Linked DNA regions of Homo sapiens. The protein of the gene in region 1 purifies or fractionates together with the protein of each later gene. This does not show direct contact. Each region holds a gene or a part of one and is shown on either strand. Other genes may lie near its edges.

Region 1 (4,921 bases):
TTTAGATAAAATGGTCCGAGAAGGAGATGGTAGTTACATCAAGGCCTAAATGATGAGAAGACGCCGCCTCTATAGAAACTGGGGTAAGAGCATTCTAGGCATAAAAGAGGCAGGTGGGGGAAAGGTGGGCTCAAAGAACTTTAAAAAGACCACTGGCTGAAGAGTTGCAAGCAAGTGGGGAGGTAGAGAGGGAACAGGATGAGGCTGGAAAGGAATCATAATAAGGTCATAATAAAAGACCAGGTCATAATAAGGAATTACTAAATGTAATAAGAAGTCATAAAAGTGTTTCAAATAAAGAAGTGATATATTTCAATTTACATTCATACCTTGCCATGGTACCAAAAATGGACTCAATGGAGGCAAAAGGGGAAGCTGAGACACTGATTAGGAAAGAGCTATGGCAATCCTGGCAAGAACTGATGATGGCATGGACTAGGTTTGTGGCAGCAGAGACGGAGAGGAGTGGACCAATTCAAGACAATTTTGGGGAAGAGTATCAACAACACTTGTTGAAAGACAGGAATCAGGATTTCTGGCTTAAGCAATGGAAAGGAAAAAACACAGTTGTAGAAAATTGGTTGGAAGTAAAACAGGGAGAGGAACTGAGTTCCACAGTGCACATGTTAAGTTTGAAATGTTAAAACAGAGATGTCAAAGAGACTATTGGATATGTGACTCTGGAGACTCAGAAGAGAAGTCTGGACTGAAAACATAAATTTGAGAGTCATCAGGACATATAGATATGAACTGTGCATGAAATTATAGATGAGTCACCTAGGCAGAAAGAAAATAAAAAAAGTTTACAGTTCCAAACCTTGAGAGTTGGGTAAAAAAAGAGCCCACAAAGATTACTGTGAAGCAGCAGCCAATAAAAAAAGGAAACTAAAAAACCATAGTAACACAAAAGGAAAGTCTTTCAAGGAGCAAATGACCCACACAGCCAAATGCTGAGGAAAGGGCAAGTAAGATGGCAGAAAGCACTGGCCCCTTAACAGAAATAACTCTGGCAGAGTGGAAGGCTAACTTCAAGTTAAAAGTTAGAGATAGCTATTTATGCCACACACGAGAGAAAAGAAACAATAGCAGAGGATATATAGAACATTCTTCCCTGCAACTTGCACCAGGAATATTCTCAATGTCCTCTCTTGTGGCTGTAAGGGTTAAGTAGGTTTAAGTTGTTTGGAATAAAACAGACATGTTGGTGCACAGGTAATGAATGCAAACACAAAAGGATCAGCCTAAAATGAAGCATTGAGTGAGAAGGAAAAAAAGTATCTGTCTTGTGTTTGATAAATCTGAATGCCTCTAAGAGGAGGCTGCTTAACACCTCTTCTTATAAATCTATGACATACGCATTATTTTAAAAATCATGCCTGCATACTTAGAAAAATACAAACACTGTAGTCCATGAGAAAAGTCCAAAACTGCTTTTGAAAATATATTTGTGATCTGAACTCTAGTAATGATTTCTGCACATCTGTGCTAACTGGCTTTGTTCTATCAGCCAAAAATATTCTTTGGAAAAAAAAAAAAAAAGTCTGATAGGAGAAATACCAGGACAAGGATTGGGTGGAGTTAAAGGAGAGAGAAAATCAGCCAACATACAATCTGGAGACAATTAGACCAACATTAGCCCAGGAACAGTCAGAGTTCGAGTCTGCTTGCAAACATTTTATGCCAAGAGAAAAAAATTCAACAAATAAATCATTAAAGTAAATAAAGTAAAGGACAGTGCTAGGGAGCTAGAGTTAATGAGAATTCTTGGAGTAAAGATCAGTTCTGGGTGACATCTTATATAGGGTGACCATCCTTTCTCATTTATCCAAGACAGCAGTACTGGTATTCTGATGTAATTATTACTAGCACTACCTTTCCTTCTTAAGAGTGTCCCAGTTTGATAGAACATTATATGGTCATACTATTTATATGCCACACATTTCTATGACTGAAAAAATATAAGCAGTTAATTACTAAATGATAGGCTAATACAATATTATAAACTATGGGATTAGAATCTACTCATTTTTTATTTGAACCATGTCTCATAGCTCTCCTTAGAAAAAGAAACATAAAGTAAGCTGCATTAAAAAAAATGTATAGGTATCACGGCTGAAAATAGATAAAACATCTAAAATTCAGTTCAGAACACAGAACAAAGTAATATTAGGTGCTTTCAAATGTTTCACAAACATTTTTTGGTATCTTTTATTCAGTATTTATACTGATAAAATCAAGAACATCAAATTAATGGACTGACATTTATTTAAATCTCTCAAGTTGCTGAAAAATATTTCAAAGGACTTGCATGGAATCAAGAATCCATAATCTTTCCTGGGTTGTTTTTTGGTTTTTTTTTTTCCCCAAGACCAGTAACCCAGATTATTCACTCAATGGTGACTTTGGAGAAGGGAGGGAAAAAATAGCTTGCATCCCATGTACTACTCTGAAAGCTGATAAATTTCAGCCAGAAAGTCATTCAGACTTTTAGTTTGAACTAGTATGATCAGACTACTATGCTTTCTGGGAGCCACCATGTTATCTTATGCTAATGTGGAAGGCTTCTACTTGCTGCAGTTAGTGCAGAATAAATAATATTCTTGTAAAGCTTACCTGAACTGTAATTTCAAGCATTCAATCCATAACTTGTTCTATTCTTTAGCAAGACGCTATCTCAACTCTCGTAAATCCAAAGGCTATTAGATTTAAATTTAATTTTTGATGGATCTTATGTGGACACTAACAGAATTCAAAATTATAGAACACGTAGGGCAAACCTGCACAAATTACTTATGAAAATTAAATATACTATTAAACTCTACCAATATTCAGGGGCACCGTTAAGAGATCATCAAGGTGAATATTTTAAGAAGTATGATGAATTTTGGCATGTAAAAAAGCAGGAAATGCTATGTTTTCCAACATTATGACATCTATCATTGCTATGTTGCGTTGCAGCTACTGCCATAAAATCCTTTGGGTCCTCCACTGACTTGGCATACTGTACTCCACAAAAATAACAGTTTTTTCAGGAAGGCTAAGTGGAGACAAGCCTGCAGGATTGTGGTGATCATCTTTCAACAGTATGGATGTAACACAGTAAAAATCAGGAAGAAAGATTGCCCTCAACCTACAAATCCTTAAAGAGATAAAAGTAAACAAATCTGTAATAATTTTCAAGCATTATACTGTGCAATAGTTACCATACTGTGACCTCCCTTTGCCTTGTTAGTCAAGGACCTGGCTCCATTTGGCTCTAATACAAATTCTAAATAACACAGGGAAATGTTTATCAAAAAGTATACAACTATAAAAATGTCCACTATACCTTCTTCTAGTTAACATAATATAGAAATTGCATTTTTATACAATTAAAGCCTTTTGCTATTGACAAGCAATATGGAAATTTATCAAGTCATTATTAAATTGCAACAAGGGAGGGATTCAACAAAGATCACAATAAATGAGTATAAATGATTTTACCTAATGACTGCAAATAGGTTCAATCATGTTATTCCACCATATCATATCCATCCACAGGTGAGACAGTAACAAATATTAGATGTATTATATGTATAAACACATGATAGATAAAATAATTATTAAAGACATTATATATAATATGTATATATTTCAATATGTATATTAATGCACACAAACTGAGATTTTAAGATTACATCTCTATAGGAATTTTAAAACTACAAAAGGTTTCAAAGTAAATTTAATTTTACAATATTAAAAGTAAAATGTATTAATGGTTTCAGTAATTTATGTGTTCTACTACTCAAAATATACACGAACAATTTAGATGCAATGTTATACTACAGATAATTCTCTTGTTTCAGCTTCATTAAATCACTTAGGCCAAAAGATAGATGCATGCCATCTTACCTGTAGCTGTTTTTCTGGATAATACCATCTGATGTGTCCTGTGCCTCTTTAGCAGAAAATCCTAGAAGGTGCCTCCTTTGATTTGCAGGGCTCACACTAGGGTTCATTCTCCTGGAATCCTGTTCCAACATGCTGAAAATAAAAAACAGGAAATAATAGCTGAAATAAAAATATGTCACACATATGCCTGCTACATGCAGCTGTGAAACAAACCACAATTCCTTTGCAGATCCATGCACGTAACAAAAATGCTAGGCATAGACGCAAGTACAAATAGGGTACTGAAGGTGTTCAAATCCTTAGCATGGTAACCTGCACATATCAAAAACAATTTTTCTAAGTATAAAAGTACCTTATTTATAAACTGTTTAAACAATAGTAGTGTTCTATATGTTTTAAAAACTTGATAATTACATGTATATATGAAGTAGAAATAAATACGACACACCTAAAAACAAATTTTAAACTCCAATAATAACTGAAATAAGAAGGCCTCCTGGATGGTGCAAACTGGTGTTTTCAATGAGAGAATACTTCAAATGAAGTAGGAATAAAAGTCAAATTCATTGTTAGCCTTTCACAATTCCAGAAGGCAGGCTATCAGATAAAGCTAAGAAAAAAAAATTTTTTAAATACTTCTATTTGTATTTATATGTAAAAACTTCTATTCTTTCTCCCTACCCTCCCTAATATCTTCACTCATCAATGTATATCCTCTTCAGAGGCATAAGCATTTGGAGAAAACAACAAAATATATACATATAAGCAAATACTGCCTACTTAACTTTTTTTTTTTTTTTTTTTTGAGACAGGGTCTCACTCTGTCACCCAGGCTGGAGTGCAGTGGCACAATCACAGCTCACTGAAGCCTTGACCTCCTGGACTCAAGCAATCCTCCCACCTCAGCCCCTCTGAGTAGCTGAGACTATAGGCATGTGCCACCACATCTGGCTAATTTTTATTTTTTTTAATTTTAGTAGAAATGAGGTCTCACTATGTTGCCCAGACTAGTCTCAAACTCCTGAGCTAA
Region 2 (2,612 bases), on another chromosome or scaffold:
AGTCGACTCAGTTTCCCCTATTTTACAGATGAGGAAGCCAAAGGTCTAGAGAGGAAAGAGACCTGCTCCCAAGAGCCCAGAATTTGTTAAAACCAAACACTGGAGCTGGGGCCTGGCTCCTTCAGCCTAATGTCCAGTGTTCCACACTGTAGCACCTGTGAAATTTATATATTGATAAATCTTGAATTTCCTTAAGTAATTAAGTTGAAGTGAGTTAGTATGTGTTCATTTTCAAATTGGAAAAAGTCAAAATTTATCTTTCAGTATTATAATGAAGGGTTGCATTAAAAAATGGACTTTATAACAATATATTAATACCTACATATACTTAAGTCTGTTTTACTAAAAATTGTCATCATGTATTTTGCAAACTTGATGAATCTATTCCCAGGGTGGCTCATAAGAGTACATGTTACGTTCAAAGAGATTTTTAAAAACCAAGAAAAGGTGTTGGTTGCTGATCTCTGCCATAATTTTTTCTAATTAAAATTTCTATTGAGATAATTGTAGATTTACATGCAATTATAAGATGATTTTTAAAAATCATATTTATGTTTCAGGGATGTGATTAAATAATCCTTTATAATGTGTTAGAAAATCAAATTACCCAAAAATTGTCCATGTTTTTTTGGAATGAGGGTTGGCAAACTAGTGCCCACAGGTCAAATCCAGCCTGCCACCTATTTTTATAATAAAGTTCTATTGGAACACAGCCATGCCCATTAATTTACAAATTGTCTCTGGATGCTTTTGTGCATTGACGGCAGAGCTGAGTAGTTGTATCAGAGACTTGAAAACTCGAATATGGCTCAAAAGCTTAAAATATGTACAGAAATATTTTGCCAGCACTGATTTTAAAAACTGTACAGTGATCAAACCTGGCCGTTTTATCACAAAACAATTTTTATATTTTCAGTACGTGATGGTTCAAGACATGCTCTCTCCATCCCCCATGGAACGACCTGAAGCTATAAACATCATTGAAAATGCTGTATTTGAGGACTTGGACTTTCCAGGAAAAACAGTGCTCAGACAGAGGTCTCGCTCCTTGAGTTCATCGGGAACAAAACATTCAAGACAGTCCAACAACTCCCATAGCCCTTTGCCAAGCAATTAGCCTTAAGTTGTGCTAGCAACCCTAATAGGTGATGCAGATAATAGCCTACTTCTTAGAATATGCCTGTCCAAAATTGCAGACTTGAAAAGTTTGTTCTTCGCTCAATTTTTTTGTGGACTACTTTTTTTATATCAAATTTAAGCTGGATTTGGGGGCATAACCTAATTTGAGCCAACTCCTGAGTTTTGCTATACTTAAGGAAAGGGCTATCTTTGTTCTTTGTTAGTCTCTTGAAACTGGCTGCTGGCCAAGCTTTATAGCCCTCACCATTTGCCTAAGGAGGTAGCAGCAATCCCTAATATATATATATAGTGAGAACTAAAATGGATATATTTTTATAATGCAGAAGAAGGAAAGTCCCCCTGTGTGGTAACTGTATTGTTCTAGAAATATGCTTTCTAGAGATATGATGATTTTGAAACTGATTTCTAGAAAAAGCTGACTCCATTTTTGTCCCTGGCGGGTAAATTAGGAATCTGCACTATTTTGGAGGACAAGTAGCACAAACTGTATAACGGTTTATGTCCGTAGTTTTATAGTCCTATTTGTAGCATTCAATAGCTTTATTCCTTAGATGGTTCTAGGGTGGGTTTACAGCTTTTTGTACTTTTACCTCCAATAAAGGGAAAATGAAGCTTTTTATGTAAATTGGTTGAAAGGTCTAGTTTTGGGAGGAAAAAAGCCGTAGTAAGAAATGGATCATATATATTACAACTAACTTCTTCAACTATGGACTTTTTAAGCCTAATGAAATCTTAAGTGTCTTATATGTAATCCTGTAGGTTGGTACTTCCCCCAAACTGATTATAGGTAACAGTTTAATCATCTCACTTGCTAACATGTTTTTATTTTTCACTGTAAATATGTTTATGTTTTATTTATAAAAATTCTGAAATCAATCCATTTGGGTTGGTGGTGTACAGAACACACTTAAGTGTGTTAACTTGTGACTTCTTTCAAGTCTAAATGATTTAATAAAACTTTTTTTAAATTAAGTATGTTGACTCTTATTTTGAGGAGTTAGTCCCAAAATGGTAGATTTTCTAATTTATAAAATGGGATCATAGATCTAGGAAGAGTCATAAACCTATCCTCAAAAAAACTTCTTCCTAACCCATTTCAGACAGGTATCTTTTTCATCATTTCCCAAAGACTTGGCAGGCCCTTTCAAAATTCACAAGATCCATAATTGACAGACATTTGCCCAGTACCTACCCTGTGCCAAGGACTGAGAATATAGAGGACTTTCCCCTAAAGGGAGAGCTCTCAGAGAAAAGGGCTGTGGTGATGCTAGTTGTATTGATACCGAGGTGTATCTGACATGTGCCACATCGAGGCATGTGGCAGGCTGGGCTGATGGGGCATGAACCAGCTAGACACAATCTAGAAAGGTCAAAATGCATAGCATCTCCATATTACAAACAAATAATGTCTGCCACGCAAGGTTATGAGCAACTTGTACGCTGGAAAAACACTTCCCAGATCTTTGTGGCTG
Region 3 (4,921 bases), on another chromosome or scaffold:
GAACAGGAAACAGAAGTGGCCAGCACTCCACAAAGGAAGCCCTCCCTCCTCCTCTGAAAGACCCCTGCTCGCCACCCTGCTGTGGTCCTGACGTTGTATCTGCCGAACTTTGCACAACAGACTCGTGGTTATTACTGGAGATCTTTAAAATAACAGCTTCAGCAGTGCAGAGGCCAATATGGGTCTTATGTGTGCAGATGTGTGTGAGTGAGAACGTGTGCTGAGCTGCATGTAACTGGGAGAACCGAATTGATGGCACCAAGAAGGCAGAAGACACCCTTGAATGAAGATCAAGATTCCTCTTCCCTGAATTAAATAGATGCTTAAAAGGGGCGACCAAGGTTCCAGAGAAAATGGGGGCAGCCACAGTAGTAATCAATGTGACATGAATGGCAGCAAAGTAACTTCCAATTGCTGGCAAATGAGTTGAACACAGGGAGGCATGCACAGGAAGGCCAGGAAAGCCTCTGTGTTTTTTCCTTTGTTCTCGCTCCACCATTACCCTAATTTCCAAGCAGCTTTGACCCATCCCTGGTTGAGGAACGTGCACTATTTTCATTTACACCCAGAGTGATGGGCATCTCTCCACACCCCTCCCTCCTCCCACAACCAGGAGCCAGGAGAAGGTCAAAAATGATTTTGTGGCTAAAACGAATCCTGAGGCTTCTATGAGGTTTGTAAACTCTAGAAAGTTCCAAGCTAAAATGTGAACTGGGCGGGGGGCGGGGGGGGGAGAGGATGGGATGGGAGGAGGTGGGGGAGGAGAGAGGAAGATCCAGCTGGAAACTGCAGAAGAGAGGCTGGGTGCAGTGGCTCACGCCTGTCATCCCAGCACTTTGGGAGGCCGAGGTGGGTGGATCGCCTGAGCTCAGGAGTTTGAGACCACCCTGCGCAACATGGTGAAGCCCCATCTCTACTAAAACACAAAAAATTCGCTGGGTGTGGTGGCGCACTCCTGTAATTCCAGCTGCTTGGGAGGCTGAGGCAGGAGAATTGCTTGAACCCAGGGGGCAGAGGTTGCAGTGAACCGAGATCGTGCCATTGCATTCTAGCCTGGGCAACTGAGCAAGACTGTCTCAAAAAATAAACTGCAGAAGAGGAGGGTTTCTGACCTTAGCACCATTGGGATTCACCTTCCCAGCGCCTTTGTCAATATTTTCCTCCACGCTTTGAGAGATTTTGTCTGTCCAACTGCAGTTTGGTCATTTTCATCGGTCATATGATGATAATGACAAGGAACACTAATGGAGCTAATAGGTTCCCAGTACTGCTTGTAACAGGTCACATGCCTTCAACCATTTCATCCTTACACAGCTCTGTGAGGGAGGCACTGTTCTTGCCACTTGCATATTGCAGAAGAAGCCACAGTGGATCAGAGGGGTTAAGTACCTTTCCCAGGGTCACACAGGGATTAGACTCAGCCCATGTGCTTCCTAGCCTGCTCTTAACCACGATGTTATATACTCTAGTGCCTCAAGACTTAATTTTGGGAGGTCAAGACCTGGTCTGTTTACACACCATGGTATCCCAGGGTCTGGCAGGAAGTCTGGCATGTAGCAGTGTGTTCACTTACAGAGTGAACCAACAAGGTAACCATGGCTACTGAGTGAGCTGATGAAGGCCTAGCTACCTGTGCAGTCACACTGGGGAACAGATTTCCCTTAGATTTTTAAACATTTTGAATGTAAACTGGGAACCTCCATTACTCCTTCTGCAGACCCAGAGATTGGAAACTCATCTTCTGCTTGACAAATGAGGAAACTGAGACTCAGAGATTGACTTGTGCAAGGTGACACAACCGAAGGCTAAAGTCACATCTCTGAGAGCACCTAACGCTCCTCTGGGCTGGGGGCTCCAGTATCCATGTCACTTCTGGGAGGTGCCCCAGGCCATCTGCAGCCCTGCCTTGGGGTACCACCAGGGGACCTGGGGATTCCGGATGGATGCTGCAGTTCCCTGGACACACCCCAGCTCCATCCCCAAGGTCACCCTCTACCATCCCAAGAGAAGCACCAGCAAGAAAGATCCTAGGGAAACCCCTGAAGGGAGTCACTTCCCAAACCCCAAAGGGAAAGGAGGTGGCCAGCAGATCTGTCCACAACCAGCTCTGGCCCAGGTCATATCAGCTCAGGCCAATGGGAAGCCCCGCGGGCGGGTCCTGGGGTGTGGATGAGACTACACTGAACCTGGCACTCACCTTCCGTCCCAAGCTTTTGCAAGCCCACTTCCAGTTCCTTTCCATGTTTCGGTACCAGTTTAGAGGACCTCTGGGGAGAGATCAGAAAGTAAAAAGAGGGAGGCAGTAAGTAGACGGCTCTGCTACAGACACCAGCAGAAACCTGCTCTGCACAGCCAGTCGTCCTGGGAAGAGCAAAGCCTCCTGCAGGGGCAAGAGAATAGAGCCCAGGACCCACGCCTTGCTGTCGGGCGCAGTTGCCAAGCTCTAGCAGCAAGGCCTTGTGCAAGGACACAGGACTCCACTGAGTGAACTGGCAGCCTCTAGGTTGGCTTTTGGGACACAAAGAAGCCGGCCCTACAGGACCCTCCAGGGAATGTCATCGTGTCACCTTGGAGGCTGGGGAGGTTGCTGATGGTGGGGAACTTGGTTTAGCAGCCTCACCATCCAGAGGCCACTCGCCTGCCCCAGGGAGCCCACTTGAGAGGGACATTGGGAGGTGGAGCAAAGATGCCCCCTCCTAATATGACATCAGGAAGTAGGGCAAATGCACCAAAATGTATGCACTTTTTGAGTTTATGTGGATTTTTATGTTTTTCTGAAGAAAGAGCCCAGAGTTGCCATCTGATTCTCTGAGGAGCCATGACTAAAAAGTAGTGAAAACCCTCTGCCCTATGGGGGCCCCATAAGCATAAGGAAGAACAAGCTGAGCTATCCCAAACTAGAGCAGGCTGAGCACCATAAAGTAGTGAGCCTCCCGACACTGGAGGCATTGAAGCAGAGGCTGGCCTGGCACTAACGAGGGCTGTGGTGGAGGAGAACTGGGCCTCACCCTCCACCCTGAGGGCTGAAGATCCCTATCTGTCGATCATCTCTCATCTGTGTCTGGGCCCTGTGCTCTCTTTACCTGAAACCAGACTTCTTGAACTGCTGCACATAGAACTGGATTTCCTCCTCAGTGACCATCCTGCTGAGGCTGGGCTCTTCTGGGCTATTTACAAAAAGTCCTCCTGCAAAAAAAGCCACTTGTTGACTTTCCCATCCCCGGGCCAGGTGTCTGCATTTTAAGGTGGGGACCTCATTGCCTCTCGCAGACCATCTGAACTTGCGCAAGGCCTTATGAGTGCCTCCATCTTTTGTTCCCTTATCCTTTGCCAGAGTGATCCCATCTCCTCGAAAGCTCAAAGCTGTGATCTCACGGTCACACTGGAGCCTGATGTTCCCTCCCACCTAGCCACGACTTCACGGGCTATTATCACAGCTCCTGGACCAACCACAGTTGCCGGCTTTTTCAGGCACACAGCAGCTATATCCCAGACCCTGCCAGCCCCCAGCTCCTGCTCTCCCCTCGTCTAAACCTTTCCCAGCCAGCTTAACTGTGGCCCTTTGGAGATATCGCCAGAGATTCTTGGAATTTTCATAAGGATTTGCTCCGTTTTTCCTCTAAGGCAGGAAGAGAACCCAGGCCAGGTGGCTGCATCCTGTCACCTCCCACGTGCCGCACAGACCCTCTGTGGTATCCCACTGTGGACCCCTCTCTTGTCTTCAGGGTGCTGCACAGTCCCTCCAGAGGATGGCCTGTGATGACCCCTGGCAGCCCAGGGACCACTGCAATTTCACAGGGCACAGCCTCAATGCTGGTGCCTGAACAGGGCCCGTCGGCATTTTCAGATTCACGAAGACCCGGAGGCACAGGAACTGGTCATTCCAGGCTTTTGTGAGACACATCAAAGGGGTATGTGATGAGGATGTCACCCTGTGATGAAGCCACCCTGAGCCTCCCCACCAGGCGGGTGCTCCAGACTCACTGTACCTCAGGGCCCCTCTGCGAGCATCCCAGCTGCTCTGCCTCCCGTGAGACTGTGGGCTCACTGAGGGTGGCCACCCTGCTTCGTGTGTCTGGGTAGCTGAGCATGCAGCCCCAGCTTCATACCCAGCCTGTGCTCACAGCATTTGAGGAATGAATGAATGGGTGAATGAATGAGTGACAGACGGTGTGAAGGAATAAGGGAATGTGGGTGTGGGGGAGGGAAGGAAGATGTTCTTTGAGCAGTGACAAGAGCATGGCCTGCAGGGTCAGAGGAGTTTAACCCCAGCTCAGCCACTTCGGACAAGTTACTTAACCCTCTGAGACCTGTTTTCCTCTTTGGAAATTAAAAATAGTAGCATTTTTCAGAATGCTTCGAGGATCACAAATATTTTATCTAAAGGGGGTTAGTCCAGAGTTTTATACAGATGGTCAGCACGTGCCCAAACAAGTGACAGTGGTCATCATTATTCATAAAAATACAAGTGAATGCTGTCAAGGCCACAGTGCTGCAGCAAAAATAAGGTCTTGTGGGAAGAGTGCTGGATCTAGGGGCCATGGGGATGAGCTCAAATCAAATCTCAACTCTGACCCTTCACTCATACCCAACCCAGGAGGGAGACAAGGATGAGCTCCAGGTGGGGGAATTGGAAACATGGCGCCTGGATGGAGAGGGGCCAGTGGACTGCAATGGAGGAGACCTGGGCAGGGGCCCCACTCCACTCCACCTGCATACACGAGGTGACCCCCATAGAGGTAAGCTCTCAATCCTGGGGTCCTTATCAGTAGAGGGTGGATTTTGCCCTGGACAAGCTCTAAGACTCCTCCAAGCTCTTACTGCTTAAGATCTTGAAGCCACAGCTCCCTAGAGGGTAGGAACTCCAGGCTGTGTGCTCAGGCCTGGGGTTAGAGTCAGCCCTATGCATGCCGAGGGGACC
Region 4 (3,685 bases), on another chromosome or scaffold:
AAATTATCACTTTATTTTATCCCTGAAGATTTCTTTTTGAGTACTTTCCACACCTATCCTGGCTTCTTCAAAACAACTACCCTTTTTTTCTTACTTCTGTGACTATAAGGTTGTATTATTGGATCTCCTTTTTTCTCATCCTAATTTCTGCCTAGATGATCAAACCTGCTCCAATAGAATCAGGTATCATCTCTGTATTGTAAGCTTTGAAATATTTGTCTCTGTCTCAGGTTTCCTCCTAATTTCTAGGTCTATATTTCTAATTATTAACCAAAGATTTCTATCTGGATGCCCTTCATTCTATGTAAAGTCAAACTCATTATCCTTCTCTCTTTTTCCAAACCTTCTCCCTCCCTTTGTTGCCAATCTTGGTAAGCAGCCAAGCAGAAATCTTAGAGTCATTAATGACTTTTCCACTCTTCCTCACCTCTTACTTCCATTATCTAGTAACAGGATCTATTGATTCCATCTCTTAAATGTCTCTCTAATCCATCTACTCTCTTCCCTATTTTAATTTCCACTTCCTTCATTGGATCTTCATTATTTCTTTTTGAAATATTTTGATCGCCTCTTATCTAGTCTCTATGCTTTGGTCTCACACAATTTAAATCCATCCTCTTAAATATGATGCCATGGGAAAAAAAAAAAAAACATCCTTACTTTTTTTTTTTTGGCTGCCTACTCATTGCCTGGAAAATAAACTGCAAGCTCTTTGACATTGCATTTGAGACCCTTACTTATCTGTTTCCAACCTGTTTTTCCAGCCCTAACTCATGCCCACACCCTTCTCTCTCTAGAATATGTTATGCACTTTCAGTTTCATGCCCTGGTTCATGGTGTTCCCTCTACCTGTTATGGTTGTTCTTCATTTGTCAAAAACCTCTACATCTTTCGAGCCCATGTGATATGTGATTTTCTCTGTAATATTTTCTCTATCCTGCTTCTGGGTAAAATTAACCTCTATTCCTTATGTTCTCTTCTACTGCTATTAAAATTAAATTTAAGTTGTAGAAGTGTTTATCTCCTTCACTGTATCAGACTCAAAGGAAAAAGTTGTGTTCATTTTGATTCACATATGCTTAACACAATGCCTGACCAATAGAGGGTATCCAATAAATACTGAACTGAACAAATCTATTCCTGATCTGTGTAATAAACAGGGAGAACAAACTTTAAGAATAATTCTCATGCATAAAACATATTAGCTACAACATACTGATTTTTGTCAGTTATTATTACAATTAAATGAAAATCATTTGGCTTTGAATAATAGTAAAAATATACCCAAAAGATGAATTATCCATTGTAATCCATTTGGTTTTAAGTAAATCAAACAGCTAAATTTCTCTCTTGCAGTCAGTTTGGAAGGAGGCAGGAAGCAGTTATACAAAAATCCAGTCAAGTATCTGTAAAATACATAGAAATCAAATATGAGACGCTTACTGGTGTTATTAGAATATCAAGGTAAGAGTCATGAAGTCTATTAAAGTTTTTCTGTAAGTTAAAGAGCTAAAAACATTGTAAAGAGTAAAAAATAATATTAATTCAGCTAGAAGTAACCTTAGGGAAAATTACACATATCTTATAGGGGCAGTGCTAAATCAGTGCCATGAAATATTTTTGTATAATTCCAACAAAACCATCTCTAATAAATACTATTTTAAGAAAATTACACTCAGTCTTGCTGTATGACTTTAGATCATGTGTCAGTGTACTATAGCCTATAGGCCAAATCTGGCCCCTTACCTGTTTATTTTACTGTTTACAGACAGGGTTTATGTTATCCATGCTGTACTCAAACTCCTGGCCTAAAGCAGTCCTCCCACCTCAGCCTCCCGAGGAGCTGGGACTACAGGAGCAGGGCCACTGTGCCTGGCTCCCTCGCCTGATTTTTGTAAACAAAGTTTTATTGGAACACGGACATATTCATTCATCTCTATGTTGTCAGTATCTCTTGTTGCTCTACCTCTACAATGGCGAAGCTGAGTAGCTGAGATATACTGTATGTCCCACAAAGTCTAAACTACTTACTGTCATTTTAAAATAAAAATTTGGGCAACTCCAACTGCAGATAATCATTTGGAAATCTAGTTGAAAATCAAGCTAGTTTCTTTGTGAGAATTTCTTATGATTCTAGAATTCAGAATGTTTATGCAAAGATTTGTTTTCAAAAATAACATGAAAGTTATAAGGATGTGAGGATAGGGAATGTACAGATATCAAGTACATAGTAGAGAGAAAGGAAATACTTACATACCTTTTTAAAGATTAAATTGTTTTATTTTTATACTTTTAACATAAGCCTGCCTAATTATTCTTCATTAACTAGGAAAAGGAGTGGCTGCTCTTCATAATAGAGTGTTATTGGAAATGAACGTTGCTACCACTATTACATCACTAAAAAAGTAGAAACATCATTCTCCCTGTAGGAATAAAGGAGTAAAGTTTAACATAATTAACTTTTTTTTTTTAAATAAGGGGAGGAATAGGCTAAAAGAGGAAGAAAGAGAAAGGGAGGGAGAAGTGGAGAGAGGGATGAAAGAGAGGAAAAACGGAGAGAGGAGAGAAAACCTACTGTACCTCATTCTTTAATTGATATGAAGCCAATCTGTGTACCAAAATTAAGGCCATCTCGGACATGGGAGAAAAACTTGTCAGGATGGCAAGATGTACAGAGGTTGAGATCTTGGTTCTGGTCCTGAATATTCTGTGGAAGAATTCCTCCCTGTTCTAGAAGAATCCTTAGGAAAAATATTTTTCAAAAGAGAGCAAGAGTTTATTTTCCCAATAGCCAAAGCAATATGAAAAAAAGTATGGATGTTGGCATGAAAAAGTTCCAGGAAAGATGTACCTAGAACAATGTATATTGTTATTCACTTACAGAACATGGACTAGTCAGGGAAAAAAATGCTACACTTTATCAGCATTTATCACCTAAGTTCATATATGCACAGTACAACCTTCCATATTGTCTTATAGACATAATCTAGGTACAGAATTTTATAATCAAAATCAAGTGCTTATTTAAGAAGAAATGTCTACAAAAGTTACCAGGATATCAGGCAAAATTCACCTGGCTCAGCCAGAGTATGCTTTTTAGTCATCTGGCCCTTCATCTCCTTTCCTTCTATTAGCCAGATTTTTCTCAGAAAACTTGCTTCTCCATGAACACTTTATGATATGAAATATGACTACAAGTTAGTGATACTTGATTTTAAAAGTCACATTTAAGAATCAATTTCAAACTTTTCCACATCTGTACTAAATGAGGCAGACTCTGGGTAAAGTTTTGGCGACTGGAATAGAAACATGATTTAAAACATACATTAATTTGCCTTTGTAGTAATGACAAATAATTTTCACCAGTTATTAATAACAAAACCTTGTAAATTAAAAGATGCGAAGAACTGTAAAAAACTTAAAAGTAAAAAACCGTGTATTTATATTATCTAATATTTTTTCTAAAAAACATATTCCTCTAGTTAATTAGATAATAAGAATAATTTTAAAATATCAGCTTCCTGATAGTTCATTACATTTAGGAGAATTTAGCTGAGGAATGGCTGTGAAGTAAAGTACACGCCAACTTTTCTATATGAAGTTTAAGTAGATCTCTTAAAATTAAATGCCAAATATTTCTTCCTTCACTTTTAAATCAATGAAAGATACCAGACAGGAAAATTTC
Region 5 (4,921 bases), on another chromosome or scaffold:
TAAAAGAGAGAAACATGAAAATAAATCAAACATATTATTCAATTTAATTTCTGATCTACCTTTTCCTCACAGTCTACTTTAATATTGAGTCTTTATTAATTTTTGAGATGGAGTCTCACATTGTCGCCTGGGCTGGAGTGCAACGGCACAGTCTCGGCTCACTGCAACCTCTGCCTCCCGGGTTCAAGTGATTCTCCTGCCTCAGCCTCCCCAGTAGCTGGGATTATAGGTGCCCACCACCATGCCCGGCTAATTTTTTTTATATTTTTAGTAGAGATGGGGTTTCTCCATGTTGGCCATGCTAGCCTCGAACTCACCACCTCGTGATCCACCCTCCTTGACCTCCCAAAGTGCTGGGATTACAGATATGAGCCACCACGCTCAGCCTGAGTCTTTACTATTTACTTACACAACTTACCTTCCGTATTGGAGGATTTACGATACCATCATGTGTTTATGTAGTTGCATTTTGCATCTTTTAAAAATTATAGAGTCTTTACTATTTACTTACACAACTTACCTTCCGTATTGGAGGATTTACGATACTGTCATGTGTTTATGTAGATGCATTTTGCATCTTTTAAAAATTATATTTTTAAAAATTATATTTTTTTAACCACAATTTTTTTTCACCAGGTACTGCTAAGACTGTTAGCAGCATCTGTCTGTTTGCTATAGATGTAATGGCAATAAATGGACTTAATACCCCTTTTAAACTTCTTTTGGTGAGATAAGCAATTAAAAAGTTACCAAGTTGTCTATGCCACAAAGTAATCTAACTGAAACTTAATAGTGATAGGCAACCTGAAGAAATTATGGGAGCAATCACTAATACAATTATAAGTAAAACATCTTACCTACTTTGACCTCCACTGACTAGAATGTACTGTAGTAATCTATAGCTTTGGAAATAGGGTCAGGAATAATACTAACCTTAATTTTCATATCACTTTACAATTGGCAAAATACTTTCCTTATATGCCCTTATTTGGTTTTAAAACAACCTTATTAGATAAATAGGGAAGGCAAATATTGTTATCTCTATCTTACAGAGGTTCAGTGAATAAATGATATGACTGAGCTTGATAACTTGTGCGTGGTAGAAGTAGAAACAGAACTGATAACTCTTGACTTCTAGACCAATCCTCTTCCACTATGAACATATAAGTAAAAAAACACACGAGTTAGATGGCATCAGCTCTATTCCACTTATCCTTCTGAAATGCTAAGATGGACTTTATCCTCATTACTTCAAGCATTTAATATTCCTAAATAAGAGTTTCCACTTGCTTTAACAGTTTAATTTTTTAAATATCACATTTCTTCAACTTGCTGCACTGCTAAAAGAACTGCTGTCACATTTGCCTGTTTTGGACCGGCTCTATAGCAACCTGCTGTGCTACACCAGGGCACTCTAACTAGAGTCTCGGACTAGTTCTAAGTCTCTGAGTTAGGTACAATGATTCTTAATTAGGAGTGGCAGAAGGAAAGCATAAAAGACCCAGTGGGTCTTTTCCAAATACATTACCCCTTCTTATGATTATGATATGGCTTGTGGGAGAGGACATCCTCTATATTCCAGTTGCCACAGTGAGCTATCACCTCTGACAGAACGTATCGTATTCCTCATCATGTTCTACTGACAACAGGACCAGTTCAGCACAAAACTCAAGGGTCCATCTAGGGTCAAGTAGCAATACCACTTTTTAAGTAGTACTAACTTTTTCAAAAGAGAAATTCCTAGTTAATTTTGCAATAATTAATAAAATATCTGATCATCTAAAGACAAAGGAATAATGAAAAGATGTAATAATTCTTAAAGGTATGATTTGTAAATATTATATAACCATAATAGAAATGATGAAAATATTTCCTATAGATATTTATTCTATAGATACTGATACTTTCCAGTTTCACTCACCAGCTTTCCATCTCTGCTGTGACTGCAGGGCATATTTGTCACATTCTTCTCTGCTTATTTTGTGTTTTACAGCAAGATTCTCTGCAGTCATTGCCATGGGGAGCTGGACATGCTGATCTGTTAATGATACCCATAAAGAATCTTCCAGCTATTAAAAGACATTAATAAAGTGACTTGTTAAGGCATTTCCTTTTAAAAGTAATATGTTATAATTTCTTTAAATAATCAACACTTCCAATAAACAAAAGTAAAATTAAGACTTTCTGATAACCACTATTCATATTCAGTTATGGGATATTTTTTAAAAACATGCAATGTTTTTGAAAACATTCAATGTCACAAAATAAAATGCACACATTCTCTGTCCCTCTCTAAATGTGGGGGTCTAAGAACAGCTAACAGGACTAGACGTGCATGGTGAGATCACAGAAGTTACCCTACGATCAAAAATTAAATCCTCAAGGTCATATTTTGTAGAAAACCTGACAATGAGTCTTCATGCAATGTTTTCTTATAGCCATCTTTGTAAACCAGCCCTGAGCTCTGTAATAAACAGTATTATCTGTTTTTCTTTTTCATCCTGCGCCTCAGTGACAGGAATAGCTGGTTCTATCGGTTACTATGAGGCTGAAAAGATCTTGGGACAGGTTCCCAGAGTTACAGAAAGGTTGTTAATTATTATTCAAGTAGTTAGTCTCTGGTAAGTGTGCCCCACTTTGCTGCCTCATCAACATTTAACTCACTGACCTGTCTTCATAAAAGATATCTCAAATGTGTTTGGTGGCTAAAATCCGCATAGATTCTCTTAAGTCCCATTCCTTTCAACTTCCAAAAAGGCCAGGTGAGAAACTGGGTGAACAGTGTGAGTCAAACATTACTATAGAAAATGCTAAAAAATATAAAATGTCAGTAGCCCTTTCACATGGGAATGAGAAGAAAACATCATTCTTTATCAGTACTGTACCATCATTCTCAAGTTGTAGCTCTCAAAGATAAAAGAATCAGTTTTTGTTTGATTTGGGACAATATAATCTGTATTCAAAGATGTTTTCTGTGATGATGAAGAAATCTATTCTGAGACTGTCCCAGAAATAAAACTTCTATAAGTCACGTTAAAGATTTAATTACTCAGATTACTAATTGTTTAGTAGTGAGATTAATTCACTCTTTTGTCTATCTTTTTAATCCACTTCTTCCCTTCCTCCATCTCTCCCATGCCTATGGCCACTTACACAGGATAATTATACTACTAGAGGTCTGCTGAGATAGATAGAATCTAATTTCATATGGGTTAAAATGTCAAAACTAACCACCAAAATAGAGTTTTGAAATAGTTTACAAACTTCTAATCATTCATATCTTGCCAATCCTCATCAACGAAATTGGCTTCAAAATTAGTTTTCTCTCCCATAAAAAGGTATGTTATTAAAAGTACTTATATAATGCTAATAAGAACTAATTCTTTTAAATTTTTATGGTTCCAACCTTGATATCTGATCCAAGCTTGGTTCCAAAACGCACATTTCTGACACAGTAGGGAGCTTGGCTCATGCTTTCGGTTCCTCCACATAAAACAACTTCAGCTTCTTTAACACAAATTTCCTATTTAAAAACAAACAGTAATAAAAACTCCTTTTACCGTACCCAAACAATGTATTAAGAAACACACTGATTTTACAAATTAATGGTAAATCAAACAAATATTGTACTGTAGCTTACAGTGTCTCAAAAGGAAATGCTTTTAAAGTAACTGTAAAGCAAATGCTAAAGTATCCATTACCAAGATGTAGGAGGAGAAAACTAAAAGGTTTCAATCATGTTTGCCTGAGTAACAGGCCCTACCTACATGTGGCTAAGAATAGTAATTCTTAACACAATATAAATCTTGAAAATCAACAGATATTAATACCTGGCATAAATGTACAGCAGATAATAAAGGACATACCCTTTAAAAAGGCAAAAGAAAAATTTATCCCATTAATGGATGTATCTGAACAAGAACAGAGATTTACAAGAACTAGTTCAATCTAGGTGACTCATAAAAAGGAAACCACTTCATTCTTCCAACACTTTCCACTGTTTGCCTTTCTCAGAAAAGGAGCAAATAATGAGCCTCTATGAACCTGATGGTTCTTAAAATTATTACTAGGAAAACCGAGGTCACTATTTAAGATATATCGTTATAGAAACAAATTAATGTGAAAATTGTTTTATTAAAATACGCCTCTGGCTCTTATTTTGTTTGTAATAAAATGAAGACTTTTACAAATGAAATTGGATTTCACTTTCTTCTCTGTGCTCAAAGAAACAAATGTATTTAACCAACTGTCCTTTAAAAAGGTCAAACTAGTTTGTACTTCTACTAACAGCATCATTCACTTCCTTTGAAATAAAATACATTTCCTTATCCTCTCCTAAATTCTTGAGATTTCCTGCTTGCCTCACGGTCTTTATTCAGTGCCTCACAGGTAACACTCACAGACCTGGGTTCAAATTCTATGACTGAGTAACCTTAATGGCTTTAATCAGTTTCCTTGCCTGTAAAATGGGAATAATAATAATAGTTCTTGCTTCATAGGATGGTTGTAAGATTAAATGAGATATTGAATGTAAATCTAGCAGGGTGCCTAGCATGTAGGAAGCACTCGAAAGAATGATGAACATACTAGCTTTTAAAAATATTGAAGTATATATATATATATAATACTTACCATTTTAACCATTTTTAAGTATACAGCTCAGTAGTTTAAGTGTATTCATAGTGTGATGCAACCATTACCATCACCCATCTCCAGAACGCTTTTCATCTTGCAAAACTGAAACTCCATATCCATTAAACACTAACTTTCCCTCACCAGTCCCTGGGAACACCATTCTACTTTCTGTCTCTATGAATTTGACTACGCTAGGTATCTCAAAGAAGTAGAAACATACAGTATTTGTCCTTTTATGACAGGCTTATTCCACTTTCAGGTTCATTATTAGCTTTTTTTTTTTTTT
Region 6 (3,500 bases), about 110 Mb from region 1:
TCTTACCCACTATCCTATACTAGAATCACTTTAGGAGACAACATTTTCTAGTAGGGTACTTCTAATCACTTCTCTGTGGAAGATGCTCAACAGAACCTTCTCTCCAAACACCTTATCCCAGCCTTAATCAGGCCTCTGCATTTAATAACCAAAGGCCAACACCCCAGTCAAATGACCAAGTCTTATACTTGCCTGTCAAATGGAACATCCACAAGAATCCTGGAATTGGTTAAGGAGAGAAGACAATTCTTCTGTAACTTTTAGAGAATAAAGAAAAATAATTTTGAACAAATGTAACATTCCATTCTAAACAAAGATTCCATGTATTTGGAAGTATTACTAGTGAGCTTTTCTTATTGAGAGCTCATTTGTGTACCAGCATTAAATTTTCATTTAATGCTGTAACTGATGACTGCCATGCAGGAATGAAGACTTGAGTAGGATTTTCCAACTTTAAAAATAAGGTAGAAATAAATGAGGAAAACCACCTTCCTAACTGTATTTTTAAAAAATCAACTCCCTTGGCCGGGTGCGGTGGCTCATGCCTGTAATCCCAGCACTTTGGGAGGCAGAGGCAGGCGGATCACGAGGTCAGGAGATCGAGACCAACCTGGCTAGCACAGTGAAACCCCGTCTCTACTAAAAATACAAAAAATTAGCCGGGCGTGGTGGTGGGTGCCTGTAGTCCCAGCTACTCGGGAGGCTGAGGCAGGAGAATGGCATGAACCCGGGAGGCGGAGCTTGCAGTGAGCCAAGATTGTGCCACTGCACTCCAGCCTGGGCGACAGAGCGAGACTCCATCTCAAAAAAAAAAAAAAAAAAAAAACTCCCTTTACAAAGTACACATTTGTATTAGATTTCACAAATTTATACCCCTGTGTAACCACTCCTACAATCAAGATATAATACTTCTATCACCCCCAGAGAGTTCCATTGTCCCCTCTTCAAGTTAGTCTCAACCCTGTAAACCCTATCCTCGGAAAATTACAGTCATTATAGATTAGTTTTTTTAAGGTGTTATGCAAATGGAATCATGTACTTCTGCTCTTTTGAGTTTGGCCTGTTTTGCTCAACATATAACATTTTTGAGTTTCATCTACACTGCAGATATCAGTACTTCATCTCTGTGTGCCAAGTAGTGTTTCCCTAAATAGATTTATTACAATGCTTCTATTCGCCTGTTGTTGGACATTTGGGATGTTTCAAGTTTTTGGCAATAAATAAAGGTACCATGAATATTTGTGTAAATATCTTTATATGGATACATGCTTTCATTTATCTTCAGTAAATACCTAGGAGTGGAATGACTAGGTAGTTTATGAAGTGTATATTTAATTCCTAAAGAAACTACCAAAGTGTTCAAATCTTTTGATCATTTTTATAACTGATTTGTACTGTATTAACAAGTTGAGTTCTTTATATACTCTGAATGAAGTTGATTCTCATATATATATAATGAACATGTTTCCCAGTCTATCATCTACCTTTTCATTTTAAAAATGTGTGTTGTGGGGGAGGGAGCCAGGCATGGTGGCTCCCTCCTGTAATCCCAGCACTTTGGGAGGCCAAGGCAGTGGATCACCTGAGTTCAGGAGTTCGAGACCACCCTGGCCAACATGGTGAAACCACATCTATACTAAAAATACAAAATCAACCAGGCATGGTGGCATGCGCCTGTAATCCCAGCTACTCAGGAGGCTGAGGCAGGAGGCAGAGGTTGCAGTGAGCCAAGATCGTGCTACTGCACTCTAGCCTCGGCAACAGAATGACTCCGTCTCAAAAAAAATAATAAAAATAAAAATGAGTGTAGGCCAGGCGCGGGGGCTCACGTCTGTAATCCCAGAATTTTGGGACACCAAGGTGGGCAGATCATGAGGTCAGGAGATCGAGACCATCCTGGCTAACACGGTGAAACCCATCTCTACTAAAAATACAAAAAAAAAAAAAATTAGCCAGGCATGGTGGCGAGCGCCTGTAGTCTAAGATACTCGGGAGGCTGAGGTAGGAGAATGGCACGAACCCAGGAGGCGGAGGTTGCGGTGAGCCGAGATCATACCACTGCACTCCACCCTGGGCAACAAGAAGGAAAATCTCTCAAAAAAAAGAAAATTTTAGCCTCACTGCTTATCTATATTTCCTATTTTTTCTATAACAAACACACTCTTTTATCTATTCTCTTTCTCTAATAGGATGAAAAACCAGAACTAAATAATATCTATTTTTCACATATTTATCCTAAAGTTAGAAAACACAAATTGTCTGCCGTATGCCATGGCTCATGAGGCCAGGAGTTCGAGACCAGCCTGACCAACATGGTGAAACCCCGTCTCTACTAAAAATACAAAAATTAGCTGGGCGTCGTGGTGCACGCCTGTAATCCCAGCTACTCAGGAGGCTGAAGCAGGAGAATTGCTTGAACCCGGGAGGCAGAGGTTACAGTGAGCTGAGATCGTGCCACCGCACTCCAGCCTGGGCGACAGAGAGAGACTCTGTCTTTAAAAAAACAAAAACAAATTGTGCCACGGCACTCTGGCCTGGGCAACAGAGCTGAGACTATTAACAACAACAAAAAAAGCACAAACAAATATTCAATTGAAATTACCTGCTGGTAATGGGGGAAATTTTTCAGAGCCTTGAAAAGTAGACAGGTGACCTCTGACAACAGGCGAACAGGCATCCCCTTGGCCAGGCCCTGGCGTGTTAGGTTGAGAGCGCAAGCACTGGCTGTGAACTGCACTCGCAAATCCAATGGGTGATTCCTCATTCCTATAGCCACAAGCTGAAGATGAACTTGTTTTTAGTGCATATGATGCCAGTAACATTCTCTATGCTGTCTTGTGCATGTTTTGATTGGCACAAATCTTCGTTTATTGGGACAGGAACAGATTTTCCCTATCCTAAGCATTTATTCTTTAGAACATCAAAGTATTACAGCAAAGCCTTCTAATCCAAATGGAGTCACTAACTATCTGTGTGACTTTGGCCAAGTCACTTCCTTTCTCTAGACCTCTATTTCTTTATCTGTGAAATTAACTTCAGAATCATTTATTGAGCCTCACTCCATACAAGCTACTGTGACAGGTACTGCAGGGGACACAAACATGAGTGAGAGCTACTCGTTAGCATAAAGCCTTGTGACAGTAATAACACTGTGAGAAATGCCAAAAAATAAAATTGAAGAAAAGCACCATAAAAGACGCATCAATGAAGTGACATCTGAGGTAGTTATGGAAAGAGTGGCCATTTCTGGGAGAGAATCAGAAGAACTCATTGAGAGAGCACATTTAGGCAGAGTCTCAGGATTTACACAGGAGGAGATAAATGTAGGGGCAGAATGGACAGGGTATTCCTAGGGGAAAGAAAGTGATAAAGAAAAACAGAAAGTGGAAAAAAAGGATGGGATAAATCCACCAACAGAGGAGAAGAATTTGAAAAATGGTAAAACAAAACATTAGGTAACTTGAAGCTACACTGTGGAAGACCTAGAACACAAATGTAAA
Region 7 (4,921 bases), on another chromosome or scaffold:
ACCCCCACCCTCTTCATCCCAGGGCAGGCAGCTACCGGGTCTCAGTTTCACCCCCGTAAAGTGGCTGACACTAACTGCTTACTGGGTTTCCGTGGAGGTCAAGTGAGAAATAGCTGTAAAAAGATGTGGAGATGTGGACAGCGTCAAGCGCTGTGAACTGCGATAACAGGTGTGCAGTTCTGGGGAGCACCCTGCAATGCCTCCATCTCACAACACCTGCATCCTGCAACACCCCCACTTATGACACCTGCACCCTGCAATGCCCCTGCCCACAACACCCCACGGTGTGGAGGGTCCCAAACCTGCTTCCTAAAAAGGACAGGAGATACCATCCAGGGGGTCTGAGCCTTGATATGCTGAGGTCAAGTCTAAGTTTGTCCATTCAGGAAGGGAAGTTGATTTGTGGGATCTACAAATGTTAACTCTAATACTGGTGGGAGAAAAGGTCTTGTAATGCATGTCATCGAGCAAGCAGGAAAAAAGTGTGTGTGGAAATGTATCTGTTTATATATGTGTGTGCATATGTGTGTGAGGGGGTGCATGGATATGTATGTACGTGTGCGTGTACACCTTGTGAGGAAGGTGCATGCACATGTGTGTATGTGTGTATACACCTCTGCAGGCACATGTGCACACATGTCTGCATGGGTGGGTGTGTGTGTGTGTATACTTGTGAGTGCATGTGTGCATGCACACAGTGTGTATTTACATGCGTATTTGTGTGTTTATGTCTGTGTTTGTACATGTGCACATAGGTATACAAGTAGGTGTGTAGATGCTGGGCACAGTGGCTCACAGCTGTAATCCCAGCACTTTGGGAGGCTGAGGCTGGCGGATCACCTGAGCTCAGGAGTTCGAGAACAGCCTGGCCAACATGGCGAAACTCTGTCTGTATAAAAAAATGCAAAACTAATCCAGGGTGTGGTGGCGCGTGCCTGTAGTTCCAGCTACTTGGGAGGCTGAGACACGAGAATCGCTTGAACCCGGGAGGCAGAGGTTGCAGTGAGCCGAGATCATGCCACTGCACTCCAGCCTGGGCAACAGCACAGGACTCTGTCTCAAAAAAAAAAAAAAAAAAAGTGGGTGTGTAGCCACACATTTGTGTTTATCTACACCCAGCAGATAGCACGGCCTCTGCCATGTTTCTTTATGTTGTGGATGACATGCCAACTTCATCTATGCGTTGCACTGCAGCCCCCAGAGAAAGCTTTTGCACACAGAGGGGCACTGAGGTCAGAGGGACTATCTCTGTCCTTAGGAGACGGCAGCCCTGGGGTCCCACCATGACACTCCCTGGCAGCCAGGTGACCAGGCCACACCACAGTCTGGGTTCTTTCTCTTGTGACAAGGAGAAAAGTCACTCTCACCCAGGCAAAGTGCAGTGGGCAGAGGGCTGGGCCCCAAACAGGAGCCCTCAGGGCTGGCAAATTAGAACCAGACCCATACCCTCTCCCTCGCCCAGCGTCTCAGGCAGGTGCCTGGGGTCAGGGCAGGAAGGGCTTCCCTGGTGCCCACAGGAGTCTCAGGGGCCACATTCCCACGCCCTCAGCTCCTCACCCATCCTCTCTCCTGTCTGGCTTGTCTGCAGCCCCTATGTGCCCTGGAGGCAGCGGCAGCCTCTGTCTGTTCACCTTTCAGCATCCAGGGGCTGGCACTATCTGTGGATGGACGAGGGCAGCAGGGGCTGCAGAAGGGAAAGGGGAGGGCAGTGGCCCCACCACAGGCATCGCCCACACGCACCCAGGCTGTACACGCTGCAGACATCGGTGCCCGACATCCGCCTCAGCAACTGCCTGGCATCCTCCTCAGAAAAGCAGCCCTCGCTGAAGAATGACTTTTCTTCCTCATTGAGAAAAATCGCACTTTCCAACCTGGAAAAAATAAAGTGCTTTATTCAAAACAACATATTTGCAAAGTCAGCATTTCACACTAAGCACATTTCCATTCCTTGATTTGACAGACAGATAGTCTCGGAGCACTACTCTCTGCCCAGGGGTAGAGACAGAGATTTAAAAACAACAACAACAACAACAAAAAGTCCAGGCATGGTGGCTCACACCTGTAATCTCAGCACTTTGGGAGGCTGAGGTGGGCGGATCACTTGAGGTCAAGGGTTCAAGACCAGCCTGGCCAACATGGTGAAACCCCCATCTCTACAAAAATACAAAAATTAGCCAGGCGTGGTGGCATGAGCCTGTAATTCCAGCTGTTCGGGAGGCTGAGGCAGGAGAATCACTTGAACAGAGGAGGAAGAGGTTGCAGTGAGCCGAGTTCACACCACTGCACTCCAGCCTGGGTGACAGAGCAAGACTTTGTCTGAAAAAAAAAAAAAAAAAAAAAAAAAAAAAACCAGATCCTGACCTCAAGGGGTGCCTTGTCTGGCCAGGGGCAGATACCCAGAAGCAGGAAAGGCTGAAACAGATGCAAACAAGTAATGGTGTCCTAGGACAGTGAGCTCCTAGGCAGCCTTCAAAGCCCCATTCCAAATGTCCCCTCCCTTATGAAGTCCCCTGTGACAGCTGCAGACAGAACCAATCCAATCTCTCCACATTGTAAACTCCCACTGATTCTGTACAACCTCAGTGCTCCCCAGAGTGCCCAACATACACTCAGGGCACTCTCATAAAGTCAGGGAGAAGAACTACAGGAAGAAACAGAGAGAGAGGGAGAGAGGGGAGGAGAAAGGAGGCAATTTTTGCTTATAGGACTAAATTACCAGTATAATATGAAGCTTTGAAATGCATCTTATTCAGATTTTAAAAAAACTTAGAGTAGCTTACAGCACATTCTACAAAATAACAGGCCTGTATTCTTTAAAAACATCAGAAAAAGACTGAAAAGCTGTTTCACATTAAGGAGGCAAGACATGACGTCTGAATAGAACACGTGGTCTGAAATTGTCATTGTCTACAAAGGCCATCATTGTGGCTCCTGGCAAAATCTGAGTAAGATCTGTAGATAATGGCATTGTATCTGCGTTCATTTCCTGATTTCGACAGTTGTACTGTAGTTATGTAAGCAGATGTCCTGGTTTTAGGAACCACATACTGCATTATTTAGGGGTAAAGGAACATCATGTTTGCAACTTACTCTCAAAGTGTTTAGAAAAAAATAGAAGTGAAAGAGAGAAAGCAATAAAGCAAATGTCATAACATGTTAACATTTGTGCAATCTGGGTGAGGGCGTGTGGGAATGTTATACTCTTTTTGCAACTTTCTTCTAAGTCTGAAATTGTGTCAAAAATAAAGTTAAAGAAAAAAAAAAAGAAGAGCTACCAGGTTGTTCACTAAATAAAAGATGAAAACCCCGGGTCTGGAATAGGAAAGATATTCAGCAAACATTTGTTGAGTGAATGAGAGAAGTCAGAATTTCTCCAGCTGTGAACAGGACTAATGGCACCCAGCCCCGTCATCCTTCTGGGTTAAAGGAAGGGAACAAACTAGCTCATTCCCTGGCTCTTCTCTGACCCCTTGTAAGTTCAGTACATGTTGACTTCACACGGCCCCCAGTGACCTGTTGAGAATTTGTGGTCTCCCTTGGAGATGGTAGGGATCAGCTAGACCAAGGATCCCCAAAGAGTGTCCCATGGAACACCAGCTCAGCCAAAAGCAAACAGGGTTGTGGAGGATTCTGGAGGTTAAGTAAGTGTGGAAAAGGCATTTCAACAGGAAAAAGATGCCTTGTTTGTGCTGGGAATCCCTGGGATCACCCACAAGGGATGTGGACAAAGCTTTTCCCCACTCCTTAGGGCATGATGAAGTCTATGATGGAGCAGTGTGTGAGAACATGCTTTGGGAACTGCTGGTCTAGCTCCTGCCATCAGTGCATGGCCTGGCCAGCTTCCAGCTGCTTCTGATGCACAGGTGCCAGAGGTACCAGAGCAGACGGACCCTTTCCATGAGGGGAACAAGTGAACGGCTTGATGAGGCATGGTGACAAACGGCCTCTGAGACCTGGTCTGAGAGGTGTTGGTCTGTCGCAGCCCTAAACATTGAACAGGACCACTGAAGACAAGCATCTCATTGGTGGGGCCAGGACCAGGATCACATGACCCAGAAGGTGGCCTCTCCATGCACCCACATTCTCTGGGCTCCTTGACTGAGGTCTTAACAAGGACAAGGCCAGGGAAACAGAATTCCATCAAAGGATGGGCACAGCTGACTCCTCTCCAAAGACCCCCTGCTGCTGCTCGCACTGGGCAGTGAGAACACAGAAGTGACCAGGGAATTCTTCTCTTGGAGTTCCCTGGCTGGGAGCAGGCAGGTCATGGGTGGCGTGTAAATCACATAGGAAGAGGCGTATGGCCAGAAGAGTGCCCCCCCCAGAGGAGCCACGGGGGCTGATGGAAGGCCCCAGGAGAACACGGGGTTCAGGGAGAGGGGGCATCCCAGGCAGAAGGACACACGTGTCACCCAGAGCAGTTTTGGAAGGCACAAGGTACTCTGTGCAGCCCATGGGGGCCTGCAAGGTCGGGCCCAGAAGCTTCCTGGGGCTTAACGGAGGAGAGCGACGTGTGTACTGGATTAAATCGTGTCCCTCAATTCATGTCTCCCGGAACCTCAGAAGGTAAGCTTTCTTGGAGAAAGGATCTTTGCAGATGTAATTAGTTCAGCTAAGATGAGGTCAGATTGGAGTTGGATGGGTGCTAGGAGATGGGCACCCTTTTAAGAAGAGAATACGGAAGACACACAGAGGAAGACAGCCACGTGGAGACGGCGGCAGAGTGCAGTGATGTGGCCACAGGTCAAGGAACGCCCACGGCCACCAGGAGCTGGAAGAGGCAAGAAGGACCCTCCCCTAGAGTCTCCAGAGAAAATGTGGCCCTTCTGGCCTTGGTTTTAGACTTTTGGCCTCCACAACTCTGAACAAGCACATTTCTGTTGCTTTAAGCCCCCGGCGTGCAGTGCCTTATCACGGTAGC

The links.
Region 2: the proteins of ATF6 (region 1) and EIF2AK3 purify together in Homo sapiens (affinity purification with western blotting, with the first as the bait; one study listed by BioGRID). This does not show direct contact.
Region 3: the proteins of ATF6 (region 1) and EPHX2 fractionate together in Homo sapiens (co-fractionation; one large-scale study listed by BioGRID). This does not show direct contact.
Region 4: the proteins of ATF6 (region 1) and LACC1 purify together in Homo sapiens (co-immunoprecipitation; one study listed by IntAct). This does not show direct contact.
Region 5: the proteins of ATF6 (region 1) and ACAA2 fractionate together in Homo sapiens (co-fractionation; one large-scale study listed by BioGRID). This does not show direct contact.
Region 6: the proteins of ATF6 (region 1) and ZYG11A purify together in Homo sapiens (affinity purification with mass spectrometry; one large-scale study listed by BioGRID and IntAct). This does not show direct contact.
Region 7: the proteins of ATF6 (region 1) and SH3TC1 purify together in Homo sapiens (affinity purification with mass spectrometry; one large-scale study listed by BioGRID and IntAct). This does not show direct contact.

What each region holds. Positions count from the first base shown.
Region 1 is NC_000001.11:161,845,551-161,850,471, reverse strand, and holds part of ATF6 (cyclic AMP-dependent transcription factor ATF-6 alpha), read right to left. Parts: intron 4,024-4,921; coding exon 3,892-4,023; intron 1-3,891.
Region 2 is NC_000002.12:88,556,241-88,558,852, reverse strand, and holds the end of EIF2AK3 (eukaryotic translation initiation factor 2-alpha kinase 3 isoform 1 precursor), read left to right. Parts: intron 1-916; coding exon 917-1,117; 3' UTR 1,118-2,112; downstream 2,113-2,612. UniProt on the Homo sapiens protein: Metabolic-stress sensing protein kinase that phosphorylates the alpha subunit of eukaryotic translation initiation factor 2 (EIF2S1/eIF-2-alpha) in response to various stress, such as unfolded protein response (UPR).
Region 3 is NC_000008.11:27,538,819-27,543,739, reverse strand, and holds part of EPHX2 (bifunctional epoxide hydrolase 2), read right to left. Parts: intron 3,187-4,921; coding exon 3,084-3,186; intron 2,268-3,083; coding exon 2,198-2,267; intron 1-2,197. UniProt on the Homo sapiens protein: Bifunctional enzyme. The C-terminal domain has epoxide hydrolase activity and acts on epoxides (alkene oxides, oxiranes) and arene oxides. Plays a role in xenobiotic metabolism by degrading potentially toxic epoxides.
Region 4 is NC_000013.11:43,889,170-43,892,854, reverse strand, and holds part of LACC1 (purine nucleoside phosphorylase LACC1), read right to left. Parts: intron 2,742-3,685; coding exon 2,582-2,741; 3' UTR 2,581-2,581; exon of another isoform or gene 2,576-2,580; intron 1,407-2,575; coding exon of another isoform or gene 1,253-1,406; 3' UTR 1-1,252. UniProt on the Homo sapiens protein: Purine nucleoside enzyme that catalyzes the phosphorolysis of adenosine, guanosine and inosine nucleosides, yielding D-ribose 1-phosphate and the respective free bases, adenine, guanine and hypoxanthine.
Region 5 is NC_000018.10:49,792,359-49,797,279, forward strand, and holds part of ACAA2 (3-ketoacyl-CoA thiolase, mitochondrial), read right to left. Parts: intron 3,524-4,921; coding exon 3,407-3,523; intron 2,070-3,406; coding exon 1,922-2,069; intron 1-1,921. UniProt on the Homo sapiens protein: In the production of energy from fats, this is one of the enzymes that catalyzes the last step of the mitochondrial beta-oxidation pathway, an aerobic process breaking down fatty acids into acetyl-CoA.
Region 6 is NC_000001.11:52,863,260-52,866,759, reverse strand, and holds part of ZYG11A (protein zyg-11 homolog A), read right to left. Parts: intron 2,780-3,500; coding exon 2,603-2,779; intron 258-2,602; coding exon 193-257; intron 1-192. UniProt on the Homo sapiens protein: Probably acts as a target recruitment subunit in an E3 ubiquitin ligase complex ZYGA-CUL2-elongin BC.
Region 7 is NC_000004.12:8,219,790-8,224,710, reverse strand, and holds part of SH3TC1 (SH3 domain and tetratricopeptide repeat-containing protein 1), read right to left. Parts: intron 1,872-4,921; coding exon 1,741-1,871; intron 1-1,740.